Linked DNA regions of Homo sapiens: regions 1 and 2 are each linked to region 3. Evidence: fine-mapped expression QTL. A gene starts in region 3. Each other region holds a variant in brackets. All regions are shown on one strand. Distances are from middle to middle. Region 1 overlaps KMT5A (lysine methyltransferase 5A). Region 2 overlaps SBNO1 (strawberry notch homolog 1). Region 3 holds the start of KMT5A (lysine methyltransferase 5A).

What was found.
Region 1: its variant is fine-mapped to the expression of KMT5A in whole blood (TOPMed, PIP 0.98).
Region 2: its variant is fine-mapped to the expression of KMT5A in whole blood (INTERVAL, PIP above 0.99).

What each region holds. Positions count from the first base shown.
Region 1 is chr12:123,405,553-123,416,082 of GRCh38, forward strand. It overlaps KMT5A (lysine methyltransferase 5A), which reads left to right. Exons shown (of 8, transcript NM_020382.7): 8 at 1,941-3,801. The coding sequence ends at 2,151. It overlaps RILPL2 (Rab interacting lysosomal protein like 2), which reads right to left. Exons shown (of 4, transcript NM_145058.3): 4 at 9,487-10,369. The coding sequence ends at 10,339. Among named protein-coding and RNA genes, the nearest start is that of RILPL2, 26 kb to the right of the region's middle. The variant A/T (reference allele first, on the strand shown) is at 5,164.
Region 2 is chr12:123,320,452-123,330,981 of GRCh38, forward strand. SBNO1 (strawberry notch homolog 1) reads right to left here. Exons shown (of 32, transcript NM_001167856.3): 9 at 9,968-10,058; 10 at 8,283-8,444; 11 at 7,441-7,576; 12 at 7,256-7,361; 13 at 6,975-7,128; 14 at 5,701-5,883; 15 at 5,051-5,148; 16 at 3,229-3,380; 17 at 1,084-1,281; 18 at 248-415; 19 at 1-156. Among named protein-coding and RNA genes, the nearest start is that of MIR8072, 39 kb to the right of the region's middle. The variant G/A (reference allele first, on the strand shown) is at 5,875.
Region 3 is chr12:123,378,585-123,389,114 of GRCh38, forward strand. It overlaps KMT5A (lysine methyltransferase 5A), which reads left to right and starts at 5,548. Exons shown (of 8, transcript NM_020382.7): 1 at 5,548-5,624. The coding sequence starts at 5,615. RefSeq lists silencers at 4,519-4,741, 5,669-5,838, 10,190-10,530 and enhancers at 4,706-5,436, 4,959-5,178, 6,019-6,178.

The sequences.
Region 1 (10,530 bases), 27 kb after region 3:
TCTGTCGCCCAAGCTGGAGTGCAGTGGCACAATCTTGGCTCACTGCAACCTCCACCTCCCGGGTTCAAGGTATTCTGTCTCAGCCTCCCACGTAACTGGGATTACAGGTGTGCGTCACCACGCCCAGCTAATTCTTATATATTTTTTTAGTAGAGACAGGGTTTCATTATGTTGGCCAGGCTGGTCTGACCTCATATGGTCTGCCTGCCTTAGCCTCCCAAAGTTCTGGGATTACAGATGTGAGCCACTGCGCCTGGCCCCAGCTTCCCTTTTTTTTTTTCTTTTGAGACGGAGTCTCGTTCTGTCACCCAGGCTGGAGTGCAGTGGTGCAATCTTGGCTTACTGCAACCTCCACCTCCCAGGTTCAAGCGATTCTCCTGCCTCAGCCTCCTGAGTAGCTGGGACTACACACACATGCCACCATGCCTGGCTAATTTTTTGTATTTTTAGTAGAGATGGAGTTTCACTGTGTTAGCCAGGATGGTCTCAATCTCCTAACCTTGTGACCTGCCCACCTTGGCCTCCCAAAGTGCTGGGATTACAGGCATGAGCCACTGTGGCCCCAGCTTCCCATTTTTAATCTTTGGAATTGGAGCTGTCCTGGATGTTATCTCATCCAAGGGGAGAAGTGGGCTAGTCACATGAAAACCTGTTAAGCAGCTCACCTGGCTCTCCTTCAGGGCATTTGGCCAGAGCAGCTCTGGAAATCACTAATTGATCTTGCCTGGCTAGGACCAGTGGAGTTGAATTTTTTATTTTTTATTTTATTTTATTTTTTTGAGATGGAGTTTCACTCTTGTTGTCCAGGCAGGAGTGCAGTGGCACGATCTTGGCTCACTGCAACTTCCACTTCCGAAGTTTAAGCAATTCTCCTGCCTCAGCCTCCCAAGTAACTGGGATTACAGGCATGCGCCACCACGCCCAGCTAATTTTGTATTTTTAGCACAGACAGCGTTTCACCATGGTGGCCAGGCTGGTTTTGAAATCCTGACCTCAGGTAATCCACCCGCCTCAGCCTCCGAAAGTGCTGGGATTACAGGCGTGAGCCACCGCGCCTGGCGGGGTTGATTTTTTTAATCCATTTATTTTGTGAAACTCTACCATTTCCTCCTGTGCCTCCATAAAGAGCCCTTTGGGTCCTACCCCATCCCCCCACCCAGGGCCTGTGCAGGCTCTCAAAAATAGCTTTGTGGGCCAGGCGTGGTAGCTCATGCCTGTGATCCCAGCACTTTGGGTGGCCGAGGTGGATGGATCATGAAGGTCAGGAGCTCCAGACCAACATGGCAAAACCCCATCTCTACTAAAAATACAAAAAAATTAGCCTGGCATGGTGGCACACGCTTCTAATCCCAGTGACTCAGGAGGCTGAGGCAGAATTGCCTTACCCCGGGAGGCAGAGGTTGCAGTGAGCTGAGATCGTGCCACTGCACTCCAGCCTGGGCGACAGAGCGACGAGACTCCCTCTCAAAAAAAAAAAAAAAAAAAAAAAAGCTTTGCAAATTGAGCCAGACCTGGTGGCTCGTGCTTGTAATCTCAAAAACTCAGGAGGCCAAGGCCAGAGGATCACTTGAGCCCAGGGGTTGGAGACCAGCCTGAGCAATATAGGGAGATCTTGTCTCTACAGAAACAATTAAAAATTAGCCTGATGTGGTGGCATGTACCTGTGGTCAAAGCTACTCGGGAGGCTGAGGTAGGAGGATGACTTGAGCCCGGGAGGTGGAGGCTGCAGTGAGCCGTGATCGTGCCACTGCACTCCAGCCTGGGTTACGGAGCGAGACCCCCTCTAAAAAGGAAAAAGAAAATAGCTTTATGAATTGAATCTTTTCAAAACACATGGCTTTAAATCAGCATCCCACCAGAGCTGAGCACAAGTGTGACTCTCTTCAGGTTGAAAAGCCTCTTTATCCATTTAATCCTCTCTGGCCCTCCTTCCCCTCCAGCGTGGATGCAACTAGAGAGACAAATCGCCTAGGAAGACTGATCAATCACAGCAAATGTGGGAACTGCCAAACCAAACTGCACGACATCGACGGCGTACCTCACCTCATCCTCATCGCCTCCCGAGACATCGCGGCTGGGGAGGAGCTCCTGTATGACTATGGGGACCGCAGCAAGGCTTCCATTGAAGCCCACCCGTGGCTGAAGCATTAACCGGTGGGCCCCGTGCCCTCCCCGCCCCACTTTCCCTTCTTCAAAGGACAAAGTGCCCTCAAAGGGAATTGAATTTTTTTTTTACACACTTAATCTTAGCGGATTACTTCAGATGTTTTTAAAAAGTATATTAAGATGCCTTTTCACTGTAGTATTTAAATATCTGTTACAGGTTTCCAAGGTGGACTTGAACAGATGGCCTTATATTACCAAAACTTTTATATTCTAGTTGTTTTTGTACTTTTTTTGCATACAAGCCGAACGTTTGTGCTTCCCGTGCATGCAGTCAAAGACTCAGCACAGGTTTTAGAGGAAATAGTCAAACATGAACTAGGAAGCCAGGTGAGTCTCCTTTCTCCAGTGGAAGAGCCGGGACCTTCCCCCTGCACCCCCGACATCCAGGGACGGGGTGTGAGGAAGACGCTGCCTCCCAATGGCCTGGACGGGATGTTTCCAAGCTCTTGTTCCCCTAACGTCTCAACAGGCGCTCACTGAAGTGTATGAATATTTTTTAAAAAGGTTTTTGCAGTAAGCTAGTCTTCCCCTCTGCTTTCTCGAAAGCTTACTGAGCCCCGGGCCCCAAGCACGGGCCGGGCATAGATTTCCTCTTCCACAAGCTGCCGCTTTTCTGGGCACCTTGAAGCATCAGGGCGTGAAATCAAACTAGATGTGGGCAGGGAGAGGGTTGCTTACCTGCCCTGCTGGGGCAGGGTTTCCTGAAACTGGGTTAATTCTTTATAGAAATGTGAACACTGAATTTATTTTAAAAAATAATAATAAAAATTTAAAAAAATTAAAAATAAAAAAAACCACAGAAAACAACTTTACATGTATATAGGTCTTGAAGTGAGTGAAGTGGCTGCTTTTTTTTTTTTTTTTTTTTGCTTTTTTTTGCTTTTTGTAGAAGAGATTGAGAATGGTACTCTAATCAAAAATAAAGTTTTGTAGTGGGACCAGAAATTACTTACCTGACATCCACCCCCATTCCCCCTCATCCTGCTGGGGTTGAAAGTTCCAGACCTGCTGTCGAGGCCTTGTGTTTGTCAGACACCCAGTGTCCTCCTGCAAGGACGCAACTGTGAGCTGAGGTGTGAGCCTAGGAGCCCAGGACCCCTGACCCCGGCCGCTGCTGCCAGCCTCAGAAAGGCACCCAGGTGTGCAGGGGAGCACACAGGGCCCGGCAGCCCCCAGGAATCAAGGATAGGGCTAAGGTTTTCACCTTAACTGTGAAGGCAGGAGGAATAGGTGACTGCTTCCTCCCGCCCTTCACAGAACTGATTCTCACACACTGTCCCTTCAGTCCAGGGGGCCGGGGCTCAGGAGCCATGACCTGGTGTCTCCTGCCCACCCTGGTCCCAGGTAAATGTGAATGGAGACAGGTATGAGAGGCTGTCCTCGTCTTTGATTCCCCCCCAACCCCACCTCGGGCCTCACGACGGTGCTACCTAAGAAAGTCTTCCCTCCCACCCCCCGCTAGCCTGGTCAGTGGTCAGCAAATTGGAAGAGGATCCGATGGGAGTGTAAATGTGAGACACAATGTCTTGATTATACCTGTTTGTGGTTTAGCTTTGTATTTAAACAAGGAAATAAACTTGAAAATTATTTGTCATCATAAAAATGAAACAAATTAAAATATTTATTGCCAGGCAAGGCCACGTGTGTGTCTTTCTGTTTTTACAATTTGACTGTGTCACACCAGCATGTCTAAGCTTTGGTAAGCATCCTCCTGGGGAACCAGAAAAGCTTACTGACGTGATTTTGAGCGTGTTTCCCAGAACTCTGAGCTCTTTCGTTTCCTCATCTGTATACTGGGGACCATAGGGTATGTGAAGATTAAAAGTTAATGCTTTTTTTTTTTTTTTTGAGACAGTCTCTGTTACCTAGGCTGGAGTTCAGTGGGGCAGTCTCAGCTCACTGCAACCTCCAACCTCCACCTCCTTGGTTCAAGCAATTCTCGTACCTTGGCTACCTGAATAGCTGGGATTACAGGCATGCACCACCACACCTGGCCTTTTTTTTTTTTTTTTTTTTTTTTTTTTTTGAGATGGAATTTCACTCTGTTGCCCAGGTGGGAGTGCAGTGGCATGATCTGGGCTCACTGCAACCTCTACCTCCCAGGTTCAAGCAATTCTGCCTCAGCCTCCCAAGTAGCTGGGATTACAGGCGCCAGCCACCACACCCAGCTAATTTTTTTGTATTTTTAGTAGAGACGGTCTTTCACCATGTTGACCAGGCTGGTTTCGAACTCCTGACCTCAAGTGATCTGCCCGCCTTGGCCTCCCAAACTGCTAGGATTACAGGCGTGAGCCACTGCACCCGGCCACAGTAGAGACAGGGTTTCACCGTGTTGGCCAGGCTGGTCTCAAACTCCTGACCTTAATGATCCACCCGCCTCGGCCTCCCAAAATGCTGGGATTATAGGCATGAGCCACCACGCCCAGCTTAAAAGTTAATGCATTTTGAGCCTTAGAACAATGGCACATAGTAAGCATCATAAACTTTAGCTGATGTAATTGTCATTGCGACTTATAATTTACTAGACTTGATGATTCTCAGGAGGCTCTGAATCATCACTGCACCTGTCTTGGGCTGGAAGTCCCTATTACCAGCCCAGATCCCTGTCCCCTCCATGCTTGGGCACTGGTGGTAGATTGGAACAGTGAGTAGAGCCCTTGGCTTAGATGCAAAAGATCCAGTTCCAGCATCAGTTTTAAGTGTTTGTCAGCCGTGTGACATTGGTCAAGTCACTTCCCCTCTCTGAAACTTGTCTCAAATAGGGATAATCTCTGCCCACTTGACTTGCCTCCTCCCCCAAAGATTCAGGCATCAGTATTATAGCTTCACCTTGGAGGGGACATGTGGCTGCTGGAACAGAACCTCTGCTTCCAATCCACTGCTGTGTAACTTGGGCAGGTACGTAGTCTCCTTGTGCGTCAGTTTCCCTCCCTGTAACATGGAGACAGTAATAATACTTGTACAGGGTGATTGTGAGGATTTAATGAGTTAATACAA[A/T]AAAAAAAAAAACAACACTTGGAACAGTGCCTTGCACATAGCCTTCAGTAATCAGTATTAGCTATTATTAGAATTAAAAATTTGGCTAGCTTCTATTCAGTGTTTACAAGTACTCAGGACTAATAGCTAATAAGTGCCTCCAAGTTCTGATATGTAGTTGCTATATTTATTTGTTCATTTTACTTTTTGTAGAGATAGGGTCTCACTATGTTGCCCAAGCTAGTCTCAAACCCCTGGCCTCAAGCGATCCTCATGCCTCACCCTCCCACAGGGCTGTGATTACAGGCATGCGTGAGCCACTGTGCCTGACTTATTTTTATTTATTTATTTATTTTTTTTTTGAGATGGAGTCTTGGTCTGTCTGTCGCCCAGGCTGGAGTGCAGTGGTGCAATCTCAGCTCACTGAAACCTCCACCTCCCGGGTTCAAGCGATTCTCCTGCCTCAACCTCCTGAGTAGCTAGGATTACAGGCGTGCATCACCACACCCAGCTAATTTTTGTATTTTTAGTAGAGACGAGGTTTCACCATGTTGGCCAGGCTGGTCTCCTGACCTCGTGATCTGCCCATCTCCCAAAGTGCTAGGATTACAGATGTGAGCCACCGCGCCCAGCCCTATTTGTTCATTGTAAAAGATGACTGCTGGCCAGGCACGGTAATCCCTGTAATCCCACCACTTTGGGAGGGCGAGGCAGGCGGATTATGAGGTCAGGAGCTGAGATCCTGCCACTGCACTCCGGCCTGGGCGACAGAGCGAGACTCTGTCTCAAATAAATAAAATAAAAGATGATTGCTACAGCAACCACCTCCTGTGCCTTCTGAGACTTGGCTTGAAAACCTTTTTTTTTTTTTTTTTTTTTTTGAGACGGAGTCTCATTCTGTCGCCCAGGCTGGAGTGCAGTGGCATGAACTCAGCTCACTGCAACCTCTGCCATCCAGGTTCAAGCAATTCCCCTGCCTTGGCCTCCTGAATAGCTAATTTTTGTATTTTTAGTAGAGACAGGGTTTCACCTTCTTGGCCAGGCTGGTCTCGAACTCCTGACCTTGTGATCCACCCACCTCGGCCTCCCAAAGTGCTAGGATTACAAGCATGAGCCACTGCACCCGGCGAAAACCTACTTCTGAGCCTGTTCCTCCCCGGTCTAGGTTTGTAGTTGGAATCCTGCAGTGTGAGAACCGCCAGAGCTCAGCTGACGTCACAGCTCTGTTACCTGTTGTCAAGCTAGGCCCATCTCTAGGAGAATCACCCCAAGGACTTATTTTCCAAAATGCCCACCTGCCAGCATCAGATTTTACCAAGAGTTGCAGTCCAAGCATTTCTCACCGTAACTTTTTTTAGTCTCCTGGGGTACCACAGCCACCCAGGCCATCTTAACCTTTCTTTCTGAGTGGGTTCTCTTACCCTATCTATCCCCACAGGGAGGCAGGGGAGCATTTATATATTTGGAGACAGGGTCTCACTCTGTCACCCAGGCTGGAGTGTAGTGGTGTGATCATAGCTCACTGCAGCCTCAAACTCCCGGGCTCAATTAATCTTCCCGCCTCAGCCTCCCCAGGAGCTGGGACTACAGGTGCTCACCACCATGCCTGGCTAATTTTTTGTTTTTTGTAAAGATAGGTTCTTACTATGTTGCCTAGGCTGGTCTCGAACTCCTGGGCTCAAGCAATCCTCTCACCTTGGCCTCCAAAAGTGCTGGAATTACAGGCTTGAACCACTATGCCTGGCCAGGGTTGCAGTGTTACACAGGGTTCTAGGGATTAGGAGCCCTGATCTAATGATGCTGTTGAGACAGTGTTCTGGACTAGACTCTTAAACACTACCAGCTCTTCCTGGAAGGCAGAGTGGTTGAAGCCTGTGTGTGGACTTTGTATCTGGGCTCAAGTCCTGCTTCTACCACTTTCTAGCTGAGGACCTTAGACAAGACTTTTCACCCATTATGCCTTAACCTCCTTGGGAGGACCCCAAGGACAATAGTGATACCCATCCCACAAAAGTATGTGAGACAGCATCGGAAAGGTACTTAGAATGATGCAGGCGAGGCATACAGTAAATTATTACTATTATTAGGACTTGCCAGTGACTCTGGACCCATAAAGCTTGGCAGCTCCGCGCCCGGGCCTTGGAATCAGGCCTGCATTTGCCTCCTGGGCAAGCTGCTTCCTAGCTCCACAGCCAGAGTTTCAGTTTCTAAACCTATAAACTGGCCGGGCACGGTGACTCACGCCTGTAATCCCAGCACTTTGGGAGGCCGAGGAGGGCGGATCATGAGGTCAGGAGTTCGAGACCAGCCTGGCCAATATGGTGAAACCCCGTCTCTACAAAAATACAAAAATTAACCCAGTGTGGTGGCATATACCTATAGTCCCAGCTAGTCGGGAGGCTGAGGCAGGAGCATCGCTTGAATCTGGGAGGCAGAGATTGCAGTGAACCCAGATGGTGCCACTGCACTCCAGCCTGGGCGATAGAGCAAGACTCCGTCCCCACCACCCCCCAAAAAAAAGCCGGGTGCGGTGGCTCACGCCTGTAATCCCAGTGTGTCCGGAATTGGTGGGTTCTTGGTCTCACTGACTTCAAGAATGAAGCCGCGGACCCTCGCGGTGAGTGTTACAGTTCTTAAAGGTGGCGTGTCCAGAGTTTGTTCCTTCTGATGTTCAGATGTGTTCGGAGTTTCTTCCTTCTGGTGGGTTCGTGATCTCGCTGGCTCAGGAGTGAAGCTGCAGACCTTCGTGGTGAGTGTTACAGCTCTTAAGGCGGCGCGTCTGGAGTTGCTCGTTCCTCCTGGTGGGCTCCTGGTCTCCCTAGCTTCAGGAGTGAAGCTGCAGACCTTCGGGGTGAGTATTACAGCTCATAAAAGCAGTGTGGACCCAAAGAGTAAGCAGTAGTAAGATTTATTGCAAAGAACAAAAGAACAAAGCTTCCACAATGCGGAAAGGAACCCGAGCGGGTTGCCACTGCTGCCTGGGGCAGCCTGCTTTTATTCTCTTATCTGGCCCCACCCACATCCTGCTGATTGGTAGAGCCAAGTGGTCTGTTTTGACAGGGCGCTGATTGGTGCGTTTACAATCCCTGATCTAGACACAAAGGTTCTCCACGTCCCCACCAGATTAGCTAGATACAGAGTGTGGACACAAAGGTTCTCCAAGGCCCCACCAGAGTAGCTAGATACAGAATGTCGATTGGTGCATTCACAAACCCTGAGCTAGACACAGGGTGCTGATTGGTGTGTTCACAAACCTTGAGCTAGATACAGAGTGCCGATTGGTGTATTTACAATCCCTGAGCTAGACACAAAGGTTCTCCACGTCCCCAGCAGACTCAGGAGCCCAGCTGGCTTCACCCAGTGGATCCCGCACCGGGGCTGCAGATGGAGCTGCCTGCCAGTCCCGTGCCCTGTGCCTGCACTCCTCAACCCTTGGGTCGTTGATGGGACTGGACACCATGGAGCAGGGGGTGGGGCTCGTGGAGGAGGCTTGGGCCGCACAGGAGCCCACGGAGGGGGTGGGAGGCTCAGGCATGGCGGGCTGCAGGTCCCGAGCCCTGCCCCACGGGAAGGCAGCTAAGGCCCGGCGAGAAATCGAGCGCAGCGCCGGTGGGCTGGCACTGCTGGGGGACCCAGCACACCCTCAGCAGCCGCTGGCCCGGGTGCTAAGCCCCTCATTGCCCGGAGCCGGCAGGGCCCGCCAGCTGCTCCGAGTGCGGGGCCCACCAAGCCCACGCCCACCCGGAACTCCAGCTGGCCCGCAAGCGCCCCGCGCAGCCCCGGTTCCCGCTCGCGCCTCTCCCTCCACACCTCCCTGCAAGCTGAGGGAGCGGGCTCCGGCCTTGGCCAGCCCAGAAAGGGGCTCCCACAGTGCAGCGGTGGGCTGAAGGGCTCCTCAAGTGCCGCCAAAGTGGGAGCCCAGGCAGAGGAGGCGCCGAGAGCGAGCGAGGGCTGTGAGGACTGCCAGCACGCTGTCACCTCTCACCAGCACTTTGGGAGGCTGAGGCGGGTGGATCACGAGGTCAGGAGATCGAGACCATCCTGGCTAACACGGCGAAACCCTGTCTCTACTAAAAATACAAAAAAATTAGACGAGTGTGGTGGCAAGTGCCTGTAGTCCCAGCTACTCAGGAGGCTGAGGCAAGAGAATGGCGTGAACGTAGGCAGCAGAGCTTGTAGTGAGCCGAGATCGTGCCACTGCACTCCAGACTGTGCGACAGAGCGAGAGACTCCGTCTCAAAAAAAAAAAAAAAAAAAATCTATAAACTGGTGCACCGGTACCGGTCCCCATCTCCCCAGGTTATGAGGAACAAATGAGATAATCCACAGAGCAGGCGAAACACATTGAGTAAGCCACTGTTATTTACTAAGAAGACAGGCTCACGGAATGGTTGCGGCAGCCTCATTAGTTCCTTTGCGAAGTGCAGACACCCGCTCTCTGTTTCATTGATTCCTAAATGCATTTTGTTCACATCTTAACACCTCTGAAATCAGGATGAGTCCTAAAATCGATAGCTTCTTAACATTTTAGTTTGCAGCAATCTTTCCCTTCATAGTGACACCAGATAATCGTGCATCGCTTAGACTGAATGAATGCAATTGATTCATTATACAATGAAATGTAGATATATGACATATACACACATATACCATGTGTACCATCGTAACTAAGAGACCACTCTAGATAAGCTATAGAAAGTATAAAAATCATTTTACTTTAATACAAAATCACATAAAGAAAGGCATGTTGGCTAAATCAAATATTCACTAAATATCAGTGAAGTCACCACTGGAATCTCAATAGCACATTTTCCTGCTTTCTTTTCTCCCTTCTGCTAACCATTGAAGACCAGGGTCATCCGTGGGAGCAGATGAGTAGGACACGCGTCTGCACGCTGGAGGCCCTGGGGGTTGACATGGGAGCAGGAAGTGGACCCCCCCACCCTGCACATCCCTTCTGTTTTTCTTGATTTCAGTCTCACTGGCCCAGGCCAAATCTTCAAGGGTGTCTAGTTCTGCAGCCAGGGAGAAAGTGATGCCAAGAGAACCTCGTCTCCTCCCTCCTCAGTCTGCTTTGAAGGGGAAATAAATACACAGGCCTAGTGTGTCTGTGTGGCACAGGGAGGTGGTTTTGCCAGGCATCTTGGAAGGTTGTCTTCTAGAATCAGAGCCATAGCCTTACTTGTGGCCTTGGATCTAGGTCTGTTTCCCCGATCGAAAAAAGAACCTGGTGTGGAGAGAGAGAGGGTTCAGGGTAAGCAGAAGGAACAAAGCAAGGGGCACAGCAACCCCCGTAAAATTTCTAAGTAGCTCTTGCAGCTGTTGACTCAAAAATATGTCCAGGCCAGGCATTGTGGCTCACGCCTGTAATCCTATGATTTTGGGAAG
Region 2 (10,530 bases), 58 kb before region 3:
CACCAAGTTCATCGATAAGTTCATCCAGGGTATTAGGGGGGAGGTCTTCAGCTAATTTTTCTAGCTTATCAAGCAGGTCTTTCTTCATCTGCTGAGCCCTTTCCACAGCATCCTGACTTGTTATAAGGCTACTGTTACTGTTGGTGTTACTGTTAGCTAGATAAAGAACATTTGCTAAAAGTTAGTACAAAGTTTAAATATTTTTGTTTAAAACAGTATTTCAAAAAGGAAGTTTCTGTATGGATACCTGGTGTACTGTTAGGAGCAGGTGAGATAACTGGTGTAGATGAAAAACTAGGTCGTTTTGATCCAAGACCTGATGCTAATAAGGCACTTTGAATAGAATCTGGATCTATACTTTTCTTCTTTTTTTTCTCTTTGTTTTTCTTGTGGTCTTTTCTAATTAACCAGGGATCTGAGTGTTAAGGAAAGATACATGTCAAATCATTTGTTAAAACAAGTACAGAATCTTCAAAGGAAACAACCTTTGAAATTTTATTTTTTTGAGACAATGTTTCGCTGTTGTAGCCCAGGCTGGAGTGCAATGGCGCAATCTCAGCTTACTGCAATCTCCACCTCCTGGGTTCAAGCGATTCTCCTGCCTCAGCCTCCTGAGTAGCTGGGATTACAGGTATGTGCCACCACACCTGGCTAATTTTGTATTTTTAGTAGAGATGGGGTTTTTCCACGTTGGTCAGGCTGATCTCGAACTCCCAGCCTCAGGTGATCCACCCACCTTAGCCTCCCAAATTGCTGGGATTACAGGCATGAGCCACCGCGCCTGGATGAAATTTTTTATATTGTTAACTGATAACTTATCACCACCTACATTGGTTCATCCATACACCATGGGGTACAAATCCATGTTTTCAAGTTAAAAATAACTGCACAAAATTGAGGTTATCTTCTCACATATATGAGGCTCAAACTTCCAGAAGGTAGATAAGCCTGGAGCTTTCCACCAAGCAAAGATTATAATCTGTGTGATCATTTGTACTGTACAGAAGAAAAGGTTTCATATCCCATTTTCAAATATACTGAAATATTATATGCTTTCGTGTATATTTAATATACTGAACTTACCATTTTCATCATCCTCATTAGACTCATCTAAAAATGGGTTGAAATCGTCATCATCTCCAGAACTCATGTTTTTAGAGCTCTCATAGTCACTTTCTTCATTATCAGAGGCATCAGATTCACTTCCACTGTCGTCAGAACTGCTACCAGTAAGGCCACCTACTTTTCGTGCTTTTTTGGCTTCTCGAGTTATTTCTTCACCTACCCTCCGCCACAAACAAGAGAGTCAGCCCAAATTCAATGTTTCTTAAGATCCAGTACATCACATTTAGTTCATGAATTAATTCAAATGAAAAGTGCAGAGGAAAAGTATTTAGGTTAAGTCAAAAAACAAACAGAATTCACAAACCAGCACTAACCTTTTGGACTCCCATAAAAAATAAGGTTATAAACATTTATTCTGAAGAAGAAATTGGATACAAAAGTACTAAGTCAAGACTGCCTTCAAGTGCACAAGTTTCAAAACATATTCAGGACAACAGAGTAAAAGCAGAACCTCTGGCATAGTCACAATTTGACTGTGTATCAGATTTGAGAAGAGGCCTAATAATTACAGGTTTATAGACATGGAATACTTAGAAAATCAATAGAAAATCAATTTATAAAACCTTTTTATTTTTGGAGACAGGGCCTCACTGTTGCCCAGGCTGGAGTGCAGTGGCACAATCATAGCTCACTGCAGCCTCGACTTCCCTGGCTCATGTGATCCTCCCACCTCAGCCTCCCAAGTACCTGGGACTACAGGCACATGCAACCATGACCAGATATTTTTTTTTTTTCCCCAGACAGTGTCTACTCTGTCTCCCAGGCTAAAGTGCAGTGGCATAATCTTGGCTCACTGCAACCTCTGCCTCCCGAGTTCAAGTGATTCTAATGCCTCAGCCTCCCTTATAGCTGGGATTATAAGGCGCCCCTGCCGCCAGTCCTGGCTAAGTTTTTAATTTTTAGTAGAGAAGGGGTTTCGCCATGTTGGCCAGGCTGGTCTCGAACTCCTGACCTCAGGTGATCCGCCTGTTTCAACTCCCAAAAAGCTGGGATTACAGGCGTGAGCCACTGTGCCCGGCGAGAAGTCAACTTCTAAAACCAAAACAGGGCTGGGCGAGATGGCTCACACCTGTAATCCCAGCACTTTGGGAGGCCTAGGTGGGTGCATTGCTTAAGCTCAGGAGTTTGAGACCAGCCTGGCCAACATGGTGAAACCCCATCTCTACTAAAAATACAAAAATTAGCAGGGCGTGGTGGTGCATGCCTGTAATCCCAGCTCCTTGAACCCAGGAGGCAGAGGTTGCAGTGAGCCAAGATGGTACCACTGCACTCCAGCCTGGGTGACGGAGACGGAGACCCTGTCTCAAAAAAAAAAAAGAAAAAAAAAGAAAAGGCTCTTTTAAAGAAAACTACTGAAACACCCAGCTGTCTATATATTAAAGAACAGGTCTGACAATACAAAGACACAGGTTTTAGTTCCCATGCATCATTAACTATCTCTGTGAAACTAGGAAAACTCTTTAATCTTTAAATCTTTCTGTGCTTCAATGATCTCTGTCTATAAAATTGGAAAAATAAGACCTAATTTCGTATGGACCTCTGCCAGGTTATATGGTAGAATGTATATAGCCAAGTGCTTAACACACTGCCAACCACCAGTGAATTGCTCAATTCCTAATTTAAAACGGGGATAACTTGTGCATTCAAAATTGTACAAGTGACAGTGAAAATTTGGAACCATTTGTGAATTCATGGAAGGCAGTTCATTCCCAAAATATAGCCACTTTAAAATGCTTATGTTTTAATTTCAACAGTATTTTCAACGTCAACTATTTTCTTTTTTCTTTTTCTTTTTTGAGACAGAGTCTCGCTCTGTCATCCAGGCTGGAGTGCAGCAGCGCTATCTCGGCTCACTGCAAGCTCTGCCTCCTGGGTTCACGACATTCTCCTGCCTCAGCCTCCCGAGTAGCTGGGACTATAGGTGCCCACCACGATGCCCGGCTAATTTTTTGTATTTTCAGTAGAGATGGGGTTTCACCGTGTTAGCCAGGATGGTCTCGATCTCCTGACCTCGTGATCTGCCCACCTCAGCCTCCCAAAGTGCTGGGATTACAGGTGTGAGCCACCGCACCTGGCCTATTTTTTCTTTTTTAAAGTGCTCACCTTTCCGCTTCTTTATTTTATTTTCTTTACAAGGACTATCTCTTGGCGAACTGTTGTTACTTGGAGCTGTCAAATCGATTCCTAGTAAACTATAAAGTTTTTTCCTGTCTGGAGCAGGAAAATGTTTTTCAATGAGTGACTGCAACACACCTCTGTAGGAGAGAAACAGTGACAATTACTGCTTCAGTTGACAAAATAATTATATGTAAAGTATTATTAAATATATTGAAATATACTTTGTTCAGTTTTACAAAATACTGATAAACGAGCTCAAATAAATTTTAATTTTCTAGCCCAAAGCTGTCCAACTAAATAATAAGAATGCAAGCCAAACCACATACACAATTATTGTATTTTCTGGTAGCTTAAATTAAAAAAGTAAAAAATAAATAAAACTGGTGGAACTAATTTTAATAATACATTTTAACTCAATATACCATGTCAACACATATGTTTTATGTTATTTTCTCTTAAGGAGTCTTTGAAACCTGGCTCAGTACACATATAATAACATCTCAATATGGACCAGTCATTTCAACTGCTCAATAGCCACATGTGACAAGCGGCTGCCATTCTGGACACGGTAGTTCTAGGCAATTATGTACAGAAAAATATAGATTAGCAGGTGTATGTCTTGCTTTTTTCTTTTTTTTTTTTTTTTTGAGACCGAGTCTCTCTGTCACCCAGGCTGGAGTGCAATGGTGCCATCTCAGCTCACTGCAACCTCCGCCGCCTGGGTTCAAGCAATTCTCCTGCCTCAGCCTCTCCAGTAGCTGGGATTACAGGTGCCCGCCACCACGCCTGGCTAGTTTTTGTATTTTTAGTAGAGACGAGGTTTCACCGTGTTGGCCAGGCTGGTCTCAAACTCCTGAGCTCTCGTGATCCACCAGACTCAGCCTCCCAAAGTGCCTGGATTACAGGCGTGAGCCCCATGTATTGCTTTTGAAAGGAGCATCTGAATGCATCCCGAGGCACAAAATAGTAGAGCAGCAAGTTTATTTTGCTCAGTTTACTACCAGAGTTTGAATGTGGAGGTTAGGCAAACTAAAAACAATGCCTAAAACATTTTAAAATCTATTTCTGAAGATCTCATGCTTATTTTCAACTTTTAAAGTAGACTTTATTTTATTTTATTTTTTTTTGAGACAGGGTCTCACTCTGCCGCCCAGAGGGGAGTGGAGTGGAGTGGTGCGATCTTGGCTCACTGCAACCTCCACCTCACGGGTTCAATGGATTCTCCTGCCTCAGCCTCCCAGGTAGGTGGGACTACAGGACGTGTGCCACCATGCCCAACTAATTTTTTTTATTTTTAGTTGAGATGGGGTTTCACCATTTTGGCCAGGCTGGTCTCAAACTACTGACCTCAAGTGATGTGCCCATGTTGGCCTCCCAAAGTGCTGAGATTACAGCTGTGAGCCACCATGCTCAGCCAACTTATAAAGTAGACTTCGTTATATTAGGACAAACTATAGTTACTGTTCCTGTGGATAACGGTAATTTCAAATACAGTACACTAAAACTGAATCTAAGCCAAGCTGTCACAGATTTCCAAGATGTACAAGATAAACAAAGTCTAGCCCTTCTGTTAGTTCACATACTCTGTGTAATATTAGCAAAATGCTTAACATTTTAGGATTATGAGATTTCTGTTATTGTTTTCCAATAGATACACTGTTACAGAAAAGCAGAAAACTCAGATCAAGAAAACTTAAAGATGATGCAGGTGAAACAAAAGTTTTGTCTCCAGGAAATGCCCACATTGGAACTAAGGTAAGGAAGAACTCAAAAAGAAACAAAAACATTAAAAGAACAAAAACATTACTTGGCAGTTGAAACAAAATCATTCAATTCTCCCCCGCCCTCTTCCAAAGCTTCTAATGTTCTAGCTTCTCCTGTAGACTGCAGACCAATTACAACACACTGGAGAAAAAAGAAAACATGTTAATTATGAATAATAATGTTTGTGGCTTCTTACCAAGACATATTTTAAACATTTAGCTAAACAAAGATTTCAAACAAGAATGTCCTCATTATTATAAAACACAAATTTGTTTTACTTATTTCTTCTACATATTTGAGACAGGTTATTTGTCAAAAATTTAGGCAGGAGATAGGATTACAGACAGTAGTAAGCATGAGTGAAGCCCCTGCCCTTGTACAGTTTATAGTATCTTATGCTTTAAGTAGATAAATATTCACCGAAAAGAAAAAACCTTAACGCAATACACATCCATATGTTACCAGTGCTACCAGCTATGGATGACCAATTATAGTGATGTTTACTTTGTTATACTTTTCTGAACTCTCTAAATTCTCTAAGCAGGCATTGCTTTTATAATTTTAAGAAATGTATTTTTTAGAAGTTTTACTATCCTTTAGGAAAACCAGATTTTACAAGCAGAAAACCTCAGCACCCACAAAGACTAAACAACATAACCCCCAAACAATCTCTTAATGAGTTCTTCTACTTACTTTTCCATTCTTGATTTCCTCTCGAGCTAGTTGCACAACCCTTTTAACTTTGGATGCTATGCATAAGTATTTGAAGAACCTCTGGTGAGCAGACCAGAACTGACCCCACATGGACTTCTTCATTCGTTGCTCAGCATCAATCAGATCTGCAGCTTGCTGAAACCGCTCTCTGGC[G/A]ATGACCCACTGAAGATACATAATCAACATTTCAGACACTTCATCTTTGAGTCTAGTTATTTAAAAATACCAATTAAATCAAAACAATGTTAAGTGCAAGACCATTTAATATTAATTTAATAAATCATCTTTAGTAACTTGGGAATCTATTTCTCAGGATACTCACACAGTTGTCTCAAGTTTCTTATTACCTAATGCAGTCATTTTAGAAAATAATGTGATTTTAAGAACTATGCAACTGAAATAAATGGCTATAACTTATGAATTACCTTAACAAAATGAAAACATGGACAATCTGAAATATAAGAACATTGGTTAGGCCAGGCGCAGTGGCTGATGCCTGTAATCCCAGCACTTTGGGAGGCTGAGGCAGGTGGATTGCTTGAGCCCAGGAGTTCCAGATCAGGCTGGGCAACACTGTAAAACCTCATCTCTACCAAAAAATACAAAAATCAGCCAGGCACATTGACATGCGCCTGCAGTCCCTGATACTCAGGAGGCAGAGTCTGGAGGACTCCTTGAACCTGGGAGGTAGAGGTTGCAGTAAGCCAAGATCACACCACTGTACTCCAGTCTGGGTGACAGAGTAAGACCCTGCTTCAATTAAAAACAAAAACAAAAAAAAACACATTGGTTAAACAGCCTATCATCTGGTAACTCATCTGTTTGTTTTTGTTTTTTGTTTTTGTTTTTGTTTTGCGATGGAGTATCCCTCTGTTACCCAAGCTGGAGTGCACTGGCACCATCTTGGCTCACAGCAACCTCCGCCTCCTGGGTTCAAGCGATTCTCCTGCCTCAGCCTCCCCAAGTAGCTGGCACTACAGGCGCACACCACCATGCCCAGCTAATTTTTTTTCGTATTTTTAGTAGAGATGAGGTTTCAACATGTAGGCCAGGCTGGTCTTGAACTCTTGACCTCAGGTGACCTGCTCGCCTCAGCCTCCCAAAGTGCTGAGGCATGAGACACCGTGCCTGGCTTCATCTGTTGTTTTATAGTAGAAATACATTCCCATGGGCAGGAGGCATCGCAATCGCCAAAACTAACAGAAACATTATCAGATACATTAAATAAACACTAGGAATTAAGAAAAATTCCTCACCAGCTTGACAGCTTTGTTATACATTTTAACGTAGCTCTGAGAAAGAAGAACTTCCTCAATTTTGAAGGTCACTCCAGTAAAGCTCAGTTGTCGAGCAATGTACATTCCTCTAAGCTTCATATCCATAGCAACTATTTCCATGGCACCAACTCCTCTGAATAAAATTAAAACATACAGTAATTACCAATACAGTAGAATTTTAACATACAGAGAATGGGCTTTAGGAATAACACACTTCTTAGATTGCTACTGAGAAGAGTATATACCGTAAACTGCATTACCTCCGTTCTACTGCTTGAATAAAATCACTGAATTCTCTAAATGGAGTACCCTCACCCCATATGCCAAGACGGTTCATATAGGCCATGTTGCGTGGTTCAGAAGCACCTGAAAATCCCACAAATGAAATATATTATAGTTGAAAAAATAACCTACAATATATATTTTTAAATAAATAAATACTCACCAGTTGCACTAGCATAAACAACTCTGGCTTTTGGCAATTTGTTCTGAAGCTCTAAAACTGCTAAGCCTGTCTTGGTTGGCTTTGAAGAACCAACAGGACATAAGTTTTTGGCTTTATGACACTCATCAAACACTATCTAAATGGAATGAGTTAAGGAATGTATCACATTAGTATTAAGTAAGAATCTCCAGTCTTTCAAGAAGAGTTAACTTTTATTTCCCTGAGGCCTTCTGATTGCCTATTTCATGACTGCAAATACAAAGGAAGTCCTATGGGCCTTTCCCCAGTTACATCCTCCTCCCTCTCTAGCCTCAAAGACATTCACTGAATTTGGAATTTAAACCAGCAATTTGCCTCTAAATTAAAACAGAGAAAAGAACCCACTGCAGCAAGAAGTTGTTATCTGGTAACTTGTAAAAGTAGAAGCATGATTGGTAACCAACTTAATCAGCATTTCAAAAAGTGATGTTCCTCATGCAGGACAGTTAAAAGATATACTGTGAACAAGTTTGGGACCACTAAGTTCTAACAGTTTTCTTTCACTTAGTCTTCTCGGGTATTCTGCTATGTAAATATGCAATGTTAATCCTCAAAAGGGGAATACAGTATTCAGTATTCCTCATATCTATTAACATTTTTCTAAACCAGGAGATTAAACATTGGTCTCCTATCTGACAGGTAAAAAACCGAATCAACTTTCCAATCCCTTTGGACTCTAGGTAATCATTAAAGTTTTCACTCCAGCAACTCGTTTAATCTCAAGATTCCTGTTTCCCAAAGGTCTACCCTTTTATAATTTTCTTGTCGTTAAAAAATAGAAAAATATTTGCCATAAAGGATACCACTCCATCGAAGTCATCACCGCACCAATGCAGAAGTTGTTTTAACCTAGTTTTATACTTGCCGCCAGACTGGCTTTCACCAATAAGTGAAGAGTAAGTAGCAAAAATAACACCCTTTTTCACACTCCCATTATGTTTGGAAGAAATTTTTCCGTATTTAAACTAAAAAAGAAAAGAAAAGAATTTAGTTAATTAGTATACCTTTCTCTCTGCAACATTCATCCCAACTAAACATTCACAAGCAGGAACTCTTGTTAGGCCCATGACAGGCTTCAGAAAACATAAAAGTACAGAGACGCAAATTTATTTGTATAAATGTACACAACACAAACACACAACTTTATAGTACAAAAATCCAGTTTTTGGTAGGACACAGTGGCTCACACCTGTAATCCCAACACTTTGGGAGGTCAAGGTGGGTGGATCGCTTGAGCTCAGGAGTTCCAAGACCAGCCTGGCCAACATAGTGAAACCCCATCCCTACAAAAAATACAAAAATTAGCCAGGCATCGTGGTGCGTGTCTGCAGTCCCAGCTACCACAGGGGCTGAGGTGGGAGAACTGCTTGAGCCTGGGAGATGGAGGTTGCAGTGAGCCGAGATTGTGCCACTGCACTTCAGCCTGGGCAACAGAGCTGAGATCTTTTTTTTTTTTTTTTAAATCCAGTTTTCAAAGTCTTAAAAACTTTTATCATCACAAAAAAAAACATTAAAAACCAGACAAACTTCCCTATAAGAATAAAAAGTCACAATTTACAAACATTTATTGTGCACTTACTATATGCAAAACACTGTGATTAATTTCTGATACATAAGAATTATGAGTAATTGTTAATGTGCCTTTCTAATACTACTCTGAAATTTAAAAAAAAAATTCTAGATGCCACTTACATCCTTTTAGTTCTGAATTGTATACAGTCATTCAAGACACAGTACTTTATAGCTACAAATCCACCCAGTAAAACCCACCCTAACAAGCCACTGTTTAGGGCAACACTGAATTCAACTTAGGACTCACATGGGAAGTAGAGGTGCAGTTACTTATTTTCAAAGGGCTACTAGGGAGGCCCTTCCAGGAACCCTATCAGTCTATTTTAACCTTATAGCACCAACAATTGGTGCATGCATAGTAAGTCAATAAAGATTTGCTAACTGAACCTTAACATTCTAAAACACACTGGCACACATTGTCTTTCAGCTTACAGAATTGTTTTCATGTGAGCAGAGGTATGAGTAACTCAAGTCCATTAGCTGTACAAATACTGAAACCAGTCTGCCCAAGCCATAACTATCTACATCGCATATGATTTGGTGACCTATAGTGCAAGGTATGCCACCTGTCTAAACTGCACCCTTATGGCATATAAACTATAAAAGAAAGATAAAAATAACACTGAAAATTGAGAGAATCAACTGGTGTGCACTGTACACTTGAGAGCACATCTCAATTTGGACTGGTCACTTACACTGTTCAATAGCCACATGTGATGAGTGGCTACTGCCTGTCAGTGTTTAGCATATAGGAATCCACAAACCAACAATAGTGGCTAGCACTCACTATGCTTTCTGTGGAGTAACATCAAAGTTTTCCAAAAAGTGTCCCCTTATATACATAGCTATTATTATTGTCATCTCACAGATGAGTCAATATTTATTGAATGACCAACTGAATAAAAAGATTTCATACCTTATTTAACGAATGAACCAAAATGTTTTTTGCTCCAATATCCCTTAAATCTCTTTCAGCATCATACTTTAAGTCATTTGAAACACTAAACCTGCCAAAATATTAAAAAGCACAAATTAAATACAAATTATATCATTCTAGAATTCAGGAATAAAATTAATAAAGCCAGGTCTTGACACTTAAAAAAAAAAAAAAAAAGAAAAAGAAAATACACTTACTCATTAAAACACCATCCCACTGAGTGCAGTGGCTCACACCCATAATCCTAGCACTTTGGGAGCCTAAGGCAGGAGGACTGCTTGAGCCCAGGAGTTCGAGACCAGCCTGAGCAACACAAGAAGAGCCCGTATCTACAAAAAATTAGCCAAGCATGGTAGTGCATGCCTGTAGTCCCAGCTACTCAAGAGGCTGAGGCAGAACTGCTTGAGCCCCTGAGGTAGAGGCTGCAGTGAGCCATGAATATGCCACAGCACTCCAGCCTGGGTGACAAAGATCCTGTCTAGATGGGGAAGGCGGATCCCATCCCCACATGCTAAAGTAATTACTAACAAAACCTTCCATTG
Region 3 (10,530 bases):
CTGGTCTCGAACTCCCAACCTCAAGTCATATTCCTGCCTGGGCCTCCCAAAGTGCTGGGGTTACAGGCATGAGCCACCACGCCCAGTGTCGATAATTATAATTTATGTACTCTTTGCAATAAATTAGTATTCAGATTTACAATCTATGAATCTACCCTTTGCTTAAAACCATTTAGTGGCTTTCCATTGGACTGGAGTAAAAATATAAGTCTTACTAGTGCCCTTCTGTAAGTCAGCATCCAGTTAGGAAAACAGAGAGGTTAAAATAGGAAATTCATTAAACGGGTGACAGAGGACTGAGAAGGCAGAAAGGGAACACCGAGGCAATGTAAATAACAACTAGAGGAAGCAGCTACCACCTCCAAAGCTGGAGATAAAAATAAAAACAAGTTGGGGTTAGCACAGCTAGCAAAATCGGAGGAAGAGCCCCGGAGAGCTCGTTCTCACCCCTCTAAGAAAGAGGCACATAGCCAGGCGCTGTGATTCATGCCTGTAATCCCAGCACTTTCAGAGGCAGAGGTGGGCGGATCACTTGAGGTCAGGAGTTCGAGACCAGCCTGGCCAACATGGCAAAACCCTGTCTCTACTAAAAATACAAAAAATTAGCCTGATGTGGTGGTGCATGCCGGCAATTCCAGCTATGTGGGAGGCTGAGGCAGGAGAATCGTTTGAACCCAGAAGGCAGAGGTTGCAGTGAGCTGAGATTGTGCCACTGGGGTGACAGAGCGAGACTCTGTCTCAAAAAAAAAGACAGAAAGAAAAAAAGAAAGAGGCACAACCAGATTGGTGCTGGGCCTCCCAGAGCCCTGTGTAGTTGGGACTCAAAACTCTGAGGAGGGGTCTGCTGTTGGTGCCTCCGCGGGAGCACAAGGAGGCTGTCTCTGGGAGTGTACAAAGAACCTGGAGACTGAACCAAATACTACTGCCAGAGGCAGTGTTATTACTGAGGGGAACATGCTAGGAATAGTAAGCAAACAGGCAAGAACAAGTCCCCTCTCTTCCTCCTGCCTCCCAGACTGCTTCTATCTGCTCTCATTGGAAGAACCTAACATTAACTGAGAACGGGGAATTATGGTTTGCTGCTCTGTATCACAGAACAGGGTAGAAATGTGGATATTACCCAGGCTGATCTCAAACTTATGAGATCAAGCGATACACCTGCCACGGACTCCCAAAGTGCTGGGATTACAAGCATAAGCCACCAGGCCTGGCCTGCCTTTTTTCCTTATAGCATTAATCACTATTTATAATGATCTTTTGGGCTGGGAGCAGTGGCTCATGCCTGTAGTCCTAGCAATTTGGAAGGCCAAGGTGGGCAGATCACTTGAGGTCAGGAGTTTGAGACCAGCCTGGCCAACATGGCAAAACCCCACCTCTACTAAAAATACAAAAATTAGCTGGGTGTGGTGGCGGGTGCCTGTAATCCCAGCTATCTGGGAGGCTGAGGCAGGAGAATCGCTTGAACCCGGGAGGCGGAGGTTGTGGTGAGCCAAGATCCTGCCACTTCACTCCAGCTTGGGCGATAGAGCAAGACTCTGTCTCAAAAAATAAATAGGCCGGGTGCGGTGGCTCACCCCTGTAATCCCAGCACTTTGGGAGGCCGAGGTGGACTGATCATCACCTGAGGTCAGGAGTTTGAGACCAGCCTGACCAACATGGAGAAACCCTTGTCTCTACTAAAAATACAAAATTAGCTGGGTATCGTGGCGCATGCCTGTAATCCCAGCTACTCGGGAGGTTGAGGCAGGAGAATCGCTTGAACCTGGGAGGTGGAGGTTGCGGTGAGCCGAGATTGTGCCATTGCACTCCAGCCTGGGCAACAAGAGTGAAACTCTGTCTCAAAAAATAAATAAATAAAATAAATAAATTAATTAAATTAAATAATCTTTTGGATGGGCGTGTGGCTCACGCCTGTAGTCCCAACACTTCGGGAGGCCAAGGCAGGTAGATCATTTGAGGTCAGGAATTCAAGACCAGCCTGGCCAACGTGGTGAAACCCCTTCTCTACCAAAAATACAAAAATATGCCCGGGCGCGGTGGCTCACGCCTGTAAGGCAAGCGCTTTGGGAGGCTGAGGCGGGTGGATCACTTGAGGCCAGGAGTTCAAGACTAGCCTGGGGAGCATGGTGGAACCCCGTCTCTACTAAAAATACAAAAAAGAAATAGCTGGGTGTTTTGGCGCATGCCTATAATCCCAGCTACTCGGGAGGCTGAGGCAGGAGAATTGCTTGAACCTAGGAGGCAGAGGTTGCAGTGAGCCGAGATCACGCCATTGCACTCCAGCCTGGGTGACAGAGCGAGACTCCGTCTCAAAAAAAAAAAAATAGGTGGGCATGATGGCACACTCTTGTAATCCCAACTACTTGGGAGGCTGAGGCAGGAGAATTGCTTGAGCCCAGGAGGTGGAGGTTGCAGTGAGTCGAGAACGTGCCCCTGCACTCTAGCCTGGATGACAGAATGCGACCCTGTCTTAAAAAATAAATAAAATAAAAATAATCTTTTAGGCTAGGGGTGGTGGGCTCATGCCTGTAATCCTAGCACTTTGGAAGGCTGAGGCAGCTGGATCACATGATGCCAGGAGTTTGAGACCAGACTGGCCAACATGGAGAAACACTATCTCTATTAAAAATACAAAAATTGGGCTGAGCGCAGTGGGTCACGCCTGTAATCCCAGCACTTTGGGAGGCTGAGGCCGTCATATCAATTGAGGTTAGGAGTTCGAATCCAGCCTGGCCAACATGGTGAAACCCCATCTCTACTAAAAATACAAAAATTAGCCAGCCATGGTAGTGGGCGCCTATAATTCCAGCTACTCAGAATGCTGAGGCAGGAGAATTGCTTGAGCCCAGGAGGCAGATGTTGCAGTGAGCCGAGATCAAACCACTGCACTCCAGCCTAGGGAGACAGAGAGAGACTCCGTCTCAAGAAAAATAAAAATAAATAAACAAAATGATCTTTTTTTTCTTTTTTCTCTTTTTTTTTTTTTGAGATGGAGTCTCTCTTTGTCGCCTAGGCTGGAGTGCAGTGGCGTGATCTCGGCTCACTGCAAGCTCTGCCTCAGCCTCCCGAGTAGCTGGGACTCCAGGTGCCTGCCACCACGCCCGGCTAATTTTTTTTTTTTTGTATTTTTAGTAGAGATGGGGTTTCACCGTGTTAGCCAGGATGGTCTCGATCTTCTGACCTGGTGATCCGCCCACCTCAGCCTCCCAAAGTGCTGGGATTACAGGTGTGAGTCACCACACCCAGCCTTAAAATTATCTTTTAAATAATGCCTTGTTTCTTCCCTAAAAGAATGCAGGGAAGGAGCTGTGTCTACTTTCCCTTCGGATCCTTGGGGGATCCAAAACAGCGGCAGGCATAGAGCTCAATAAATGTTGAAATAATCAATTTTGGAGAAAGCAAACACCTCTCTCTCTATATATATTTTTTGTTTGTTTGTTTGTTTGTTTTGAGACAGAGTCTCGCTCTGGTGCCCAGGCTGGATTGCAGTGGGACGATCTTGGCTCACTGCAACCTCTGCCTCCCGGGTTCAAGCACTTCTCCGCCTCAGCCTCCTGAGTAGTGAGATTACAGGCACGCACCACCACGCCTGGCTAATTTTTGTATTTTTAGTAGAAACGGGGTTTTCACCATGTTGGTCAGGCTGGTCTTGAATTCCTGACCTCGTGATCCACCTGCCTCGGCCTCCCAGAGTGCTGGGATTACAGGTGAGAGCCACTGCACACTGCCACACTTCCACATATTTATGGAAGCTGTAAGGCATGTTGGAGATTACGGCACCAGCTCCTTCATTTGACAGGTAGGGAAATGGAAGGCCAGAGAGCTGAACTGATGTGCCAAGTGACACAGTGACTTTGTGACAAAAGTGTCCTTTTCTACCTTTCCCAGTGCTTTCACATATATCATTTTATTTTCCTTTCCTATTTTCCTGGTGCTTTGGAAGAGTCTTTGGGCAATGGTTGGGTCTCCAAAACCTTTTCAATTACCAAAGAGACAGGATGGATTAGTGACCTCGTCCCACACCCCTGGGAGGGGCCCCAGGGAAGAGCAGTAGTAACTGGACGCCTTCCCTGAGTCCAAAGCAGACACTCCAGGACACCTGATTCTCTGGGAACATACTGACTGAGCCCCCTCTCTCAGAGGGGAACAGCGAATACTTGCTTCCCTCGGGATAAGGTAGCCATTTAGTGTTTGAACAGTGGAGAGACTGACCCAGGCCCTGCAATTACATTGCTGGGTGACCTTGGGCAGCGCGTAAGTGACCCGCTTCCTCTATTGCCCCATCTGTAAAATGGGTGGGTGTGAAGCATTAGGATCTTTGCGGTCCTGGAAGGACCTTCCCTACTGACCCAGTTAGTTGGTAGGAGTTGTGTCTGTGGGTTTTTTTTTTTTTCTTTTTTTGAGACGGAGTCTCGTTCTGTCGCCCAGGCTGGAGTGCAGCGGCGTGATCTCGGCTCACTGCAAGCTCTGTCTCCCGGGTTCACGCCATTGTCCTGCCTCGGCCTCCCAGGTAGCTGGGACTACAGGCGCCCGCCACCACGCCCGGCTCATTTTTTTTGTATTTTTAGTAGAGACGGGGTTTCACCGTGTTAGCCAGGATGGTCTCGATCTCCTGACCTCGTAATCCACCCGCCTCGGCCTCCCAAAGTGCTGAGATTACAGGCGTGAGCCACCGCGCCCGGCCGGGTTTTGAATACTGGAATATTCAATAAACCTTTTTTTTTTTTTTTTTTTTTGAGACAGTGTTTCGCTCTTGTTGCCCAGGCTGGAGTGCAATGGCGCGATCTCGGCTCACCGTAACCTCTGCCTCCCGAGTAGCTGGGATTACATGCTATTCTCCGGCCTCAGCCTCCCGAGTAGCTGGGATTACATGCATGCGATACCACGCCCGGCTAATTTTGTATTTTTAGTAGAGACTGGGTTTCTCTATATTGGTCAGGCTGGTCTCGAACCACGGACCTCAGGTGATCCGCCCGCCTCAGCCTCCCAAAGTGCTGGGATTACAGGCATGAGCCACCGCGCCCGGCCAAAACCTTTCAAACCTGAGAATGAATGGATCAAACTGCTGGAGAGGTCGGTGTGCTGGAGTTGCTAAACTGCTGGGAGACTCAGGTTTCCCAGCTCTTAAGGGAAGATCGAGGGGTCAAAGGTCGGGTTCCGGTCAAGCCCACAGAGAACCGGAAGTCCCAGATCCGGTCGGCTCGGAGCCCAGGGCTCCAGCCGGGCTACTCACGCTCCGGAGGCGGAGCTTCAGCAGCGGGAGGGGGAGGAATCTGGGGCCTCCCAATGGCAGCTCGGGTGTCTTCCATCGCAGCCATTCAACGTCTGGCGACGGTCAAATTTAAACACCCCTCCCACCTCCTCCGCCGGGACCTGTCGGGAAAGCGTTTGCAGTTATTGCGGCGGCTGGACACGCCCCGCCGCCGAAGAGGCGGGAGAAGGGCGGGGCCTTTCTCCGAGTTGGCCTATCACTACGGGCAGCCTGCGGAGAGGCGGGAGGCGGCGCCAATCGGGGCGAGCAGCTGGAGCCCGGCGGAGCAGTTGGCTGAGTTGTTGCAACTTTTTTCGAAAGCTGGGTTTCCCGGGAGATCCCAGGCGGTGACAGAGTGGAGCCATGGCTAGAGGTATTTGCCCAAGTGGCCGGCACCGGAGCGGCTGGGTCGGGGGTCGTGCTGGAGGGGTTGCCGGGGTGGAGGCAGCGGCTGCGGGGAGGCGTCCTCCTCGGGTGGCTCGGGGCAAGCTTGGGGACCCGCGTGGGGGGAGAGGGGGTGCTGCTGCGGAACCCGCCGGCCCCCCCTTGCGGCTCCAGATGCCCCCAGAAACCCTTCCCACTGCCGTGCTTCTGTTTCCCTTCTATGAAGTGAACACCTGCGGGCCTGCCTCTCCACGGCAGCAGATCCATATGTCAGAGCTCTTTGGAAACTAAAGCGCAGGGCACCTCCAGGGAATAGGTGTTATTGATAGAAGTGGGGCGGGGGCAGGAGTGAGGCTTCGCCCACTTTGGGGCCCTCTCTCTTTGGGAAAGGAGGTGATCCCGAGGCGAAGGCGCAGATCGATAACCTGCATATTGGGGTGCGCGTCAGGGTGGACACCGCAGCAGGCGCCTTTCCTCCCTCCCCACGTCCTGAGTCAGCTCTGCGCCGCTGGAGCGAAGGCCGGGCCCCGCTGGCCCACTTTGGGGTAAAACGGGTTCCTGGCATCTCGCGGGCGCGGTCGTTCGCCCCGCATCTGGTCAGGACTTCGCCCCCCGGTAGATGGCTTGGGTGGGCTTGTACAGCCCTGGGAGGCGATGCCCTGTCTGAAGTCCTCTGCATACTTAGTTGGCTGTCAGGACAGTGCCTCCCAGGTATGCGGCAAAGAGATCTCCAACCGCTTGGTCATTTCCAGCCACTGCGTCTCCTTCACGCCAAAGGGCCAAAAACTTGAGCGTGAAAGTTGAGTAGAATTAGTATTAAAAAAAAAAAAAAGTTTTGGTATTATATTTTTCTCAAAATTTCAAGGCTTCAAGTGTTAGTAGGAATTTGCTTTAGTGCAGTATGCTCCCTATAGCAATAATAATGAATAAAATAATGATTCATTCAGTAAATATCTATTGGGTCCCTTTGTTTTCAGGCCCTGAAGTCAGTTGCATCATCTATTCTCCTAGCATCCCTAGAGGTTCTTTTGGGATAAGACTTACCCAGAGCCTGATGAAAAAATGAGGCATAGTAAACTTCAGGTTAAAGAGCTTCATCACTCAACTCTTGGAGAAAATTAATACTAATATTTTTCCTTTGAAAAGTGTTAAGCATCTAAAAGTATATTTAACATTATCTGACTAATTTATCTGACAAATTTTAATAAAACTATGCTTCCTGGGTTCATTTTTCTCATCACAGCAAAATCATTTAAACTACTTGTTTTAAAAGTAGTGCATTAATTAATATATGAAGAAAACTAACCATCTATCATTGAAATACTTAAAATATGACTAAATAATAATTATGGCCAGGCATGGTGGCTCACACCTGTAATCCTAGCACTTTGGGAGGCCAAGGCGGGCAGATCACCTGAGGTCGGGAGTTCGAGACCAGTCTGACCAACATGGAGAAATCCCGTCTCTACTAAAAATACAAAATTAGCCGGGCATGGCAGCGCATGCCTGTAATCCCAGCTACTTGGGAGGCTGAGGCAGGGAGAATTGCCTGAACCTGGGAGGTGGAGCTTGCAGTGAGCCGAGATTACGTCACCGCACTCCAGCATGGGCAACAGAGCAAGACTCCATCTCAAAAAAACAAACAAGAACAATAACAAAATAATAATAATTACCACTGAGGGCCAGGCACTTTATTAACTCAATTGATCTTTACAAATTGTTATTCTCATTTTTTGGAAGAGGAAGCGTGAAGTCCAAACTTGCTGTCCAGACTCTAGCTTGGCTGGGTCTTTGCTTGTGCCACCCAACCTCCCTTACTTACCCAAAGCGAAGATAATGTTTGTCAGCTCCTCCCATGGCAGCTTACAAATCACCTATGTAATTATTAGTTATTGATTCTCACTGTCTCACTTGACCCCCAAATTAGTAGTTACCTGTTTCTTAGGCTTTACTGCCCTTGCAAGCTATTAAATTGGATATTTAGATTTAGATTTTTTTTTTTTTTTTTTTTTTTGAGACAGAGTCTCTCTCTGTCACCCAGGCTGGAGTACAGTGGAGTGATTTCAGCCCGCTTCACCCTCCCTCTCCTGTGTTCAAGTGATTCTTGTGCCTCAGCTTCCCAAGTAGCTGGGATTACAGGCACCTGTCACCACACCCAGCTAATTTTTGTATTTTTAGTAGAGACGGGGTTTCGCCATGTTGGCCAGGCTAGTCTTGAACTCCTGACCTCAGGTTATCTGCCCACCTCGGCCTCCCAGAGTGCTGGGATTACAGGCAAAAGCCACCACGCCTGGCCAATATTTAGAATTGTAAATACCAAATCATTTACAGCACTTCAAATGAACAGTCTTTTTCTTCTAGAAAATTGGGCTTTGAACTTGCAATTCACTTTGAGAGCCCTGCTGGGTCACAGAAACAAACTGGTCAGATGCCAGGCAACACCTCACTCATTTTGAAGTTTTATAATCATGCAAATATTTACAACCCCAATATATTAGTCTCAGGGGTCAGTCCACCTACCTTTCACTATTTCTACTGCCATTGTTGAATGGTCTCTTGGTTGGTTGCCCTCCTCATTTTGCCATCTTCAGTTCATTATCCCTTAGCACCTGGTGGGGGGGTCTCCAAAAATACAGACTTTTCTTTTTTTTTGGGAGACAGAGTCTCACTCTGTCACCCAGGATAGAGTGCAGTGGCACAATCTTGGCTCACTGCAAACTCCACCCCCCTGGGTTCAAGTGACTCTCCTGCCTCAGCCTCCCAAGTAGCTGGGATTACAGGCATGCGCAACCACGCCAAGCTAATTTTTGTATTTTTAGTAGAGACGGGGTTTCGCCATGTTGGCCAGGCTGGTCTCAAACTCCTGATTTCAGGTGATTTGCCCTCCTCTGCCTCCCAAGGTGCTGGGATTACAGGTGTGAGCCACTGCGCCCAGCTGGTGTATTTGTTATATACGTATAAACTTGCGGAGAAAGGACTGTTTTGAAACTTACATTGAATGATCTGTATTTACATCTTCTAGGTACTGGAGCTGCAGAATTGAGAGGAATAGGTGCTAGACTTGTAATGTGTCCCCTGCAATTGGGGGCTCAAATGCAGAGAAAGCTATGACCATGAGTGGGGCGTGGGGTGTGGCTCGGTATACTAGAATGTGAAATGGATAAGATGATCTATGTGGGTGCTTCCTGCTCCAAAACCATGATTCTCATGGCAGTTAAGCTGCAAAACTTCTCTGCCTTGCAGAAATAGAAGACGCTTTCAAATGGCTCAACCTGGTTATCAGAGTGTCACTTTCGAATCCTCTTTCACCCTCTGGGTAATCTTTTGGATATTCAACTGTAGTAGGCTCTGCAGAGGGCATAGGCAGAGTACCTAGCCCACTGGAGTTAGTGGTTGGGCTGGAGACCCTGCCTTGAAGGATGCTAAAGCATGAGCTGATTTGGGAGGGATTGTCTGAGCAGTGACCTGTCACCACCTAATCCTACTCAGTCTTATCCGTTCCAATGGGAGTCGAGGGAGGCTAGGTGGGAGGATGGCTACAAACAGCCATTTGCTTATCTGTGGATGTTGGAAGGTGCTCTGGTGGATTATGGAATTCAAGGTTCTTGGTTTTTACCCATGAGGACACTGAGGCCCAGACTGGGGAAGTGACTTGGCGATGGTCACAAAACACCTCTGGGCAGATGCAGGGAAATAAGTCCAGCCCCTGACTCCCAGGCCATGGGCCAGGCTGCAGGAGCTGGATGCCTTGAAGTGTCTTGTTTGCATCTATGACTTTGCACAAATACAGTGAATCTGGCTGTGGGCCCTCAAGCCTTAATGGCCACAGAGTAGTGGTGCAGGGCAGTGAGCTATGCTGAAACAGCCACCAGAGTGACGGGAACCTCGTCTGCCTATGGGGGCATTTTCTCACGGCGGGATAGGAGAACAAGGTGACATGTTAAACCCTTCTGCAAGACCATTTGCTTCTCCCAAACTCCATTTCCTCATCTGTAACCAGGAAGGGTAGTGGCTGGGAGGGCAAGGCCCTGGGGTCAGTTGGCTGGGGCTGAAAACCCATCTAGTTCTGAGAACTTGGCCAAGCTCCTCACTTTCTCCATCTGTTGAAAAGAGATAATAATGGTGTCTACCTTTGCAGGGCTGCTGTGAGGTTTCAGTGAGATAACGGCAAGAGACTCGCCCAGGAAACCGATCATTATAACCCCTGGCTCTGTCTCCCCAGGGCTTCCTACCGGTCAAGTACAGCCCTTCTGGGTTTGACACCTGGCCCCATCACTTCCTAGTTCTGTGGCCCGGGACAAACCCCTGCACATCCCTTGAGTCACAGTGTCACCATTGTAAGCTGGGATGCCGACAGGACCTGCCCCCGTGGGCGTGCGGGGAGGATTCAATGCCTGTGAAACTCTCGGTGGGCACAGCGCCGGGCACACCCGAGGGCCTGGCCTGGCGCGTTCACCGCTGCTGATTTCGTCTGGCACAGACCGGGTTCCCAAAATATCCGCAGAGCCAGCGGAAAAAGGAGCCGGGCGGGCTGGCGGGAGGGCGGGCGGGAGCCTGGGCTGTCATGACGGTGTTTCCCACCCCTTCCTCCGCGAGTGGCTGAGGCCGCGCGAGAGGGGGCGCGCCCGAGCCGGGATTCGCCGCGCCCGCCCGCCCGCCCTCCGGAGCGGCCTGGCGGCGCCGCCCCTACCAGCCCCCTCCCCGGGCCGGGCGCCGGACGGTGGGCGGCTGCGAGCGGGCGGGAGGGCTGCGGAGGACGCGCCGCCTGCGCCTCCTTCCCTTCGTGCCTCGCCCCGGGCGGCCCGGGGCTGCCGCGGTGCGCGGGTGCCGGGCCCTGCCTCGCCGGCCATGGGGGAAGGGGGCGCCGTGGGGCGCCGCCGGCCCTTCCCCGGGGC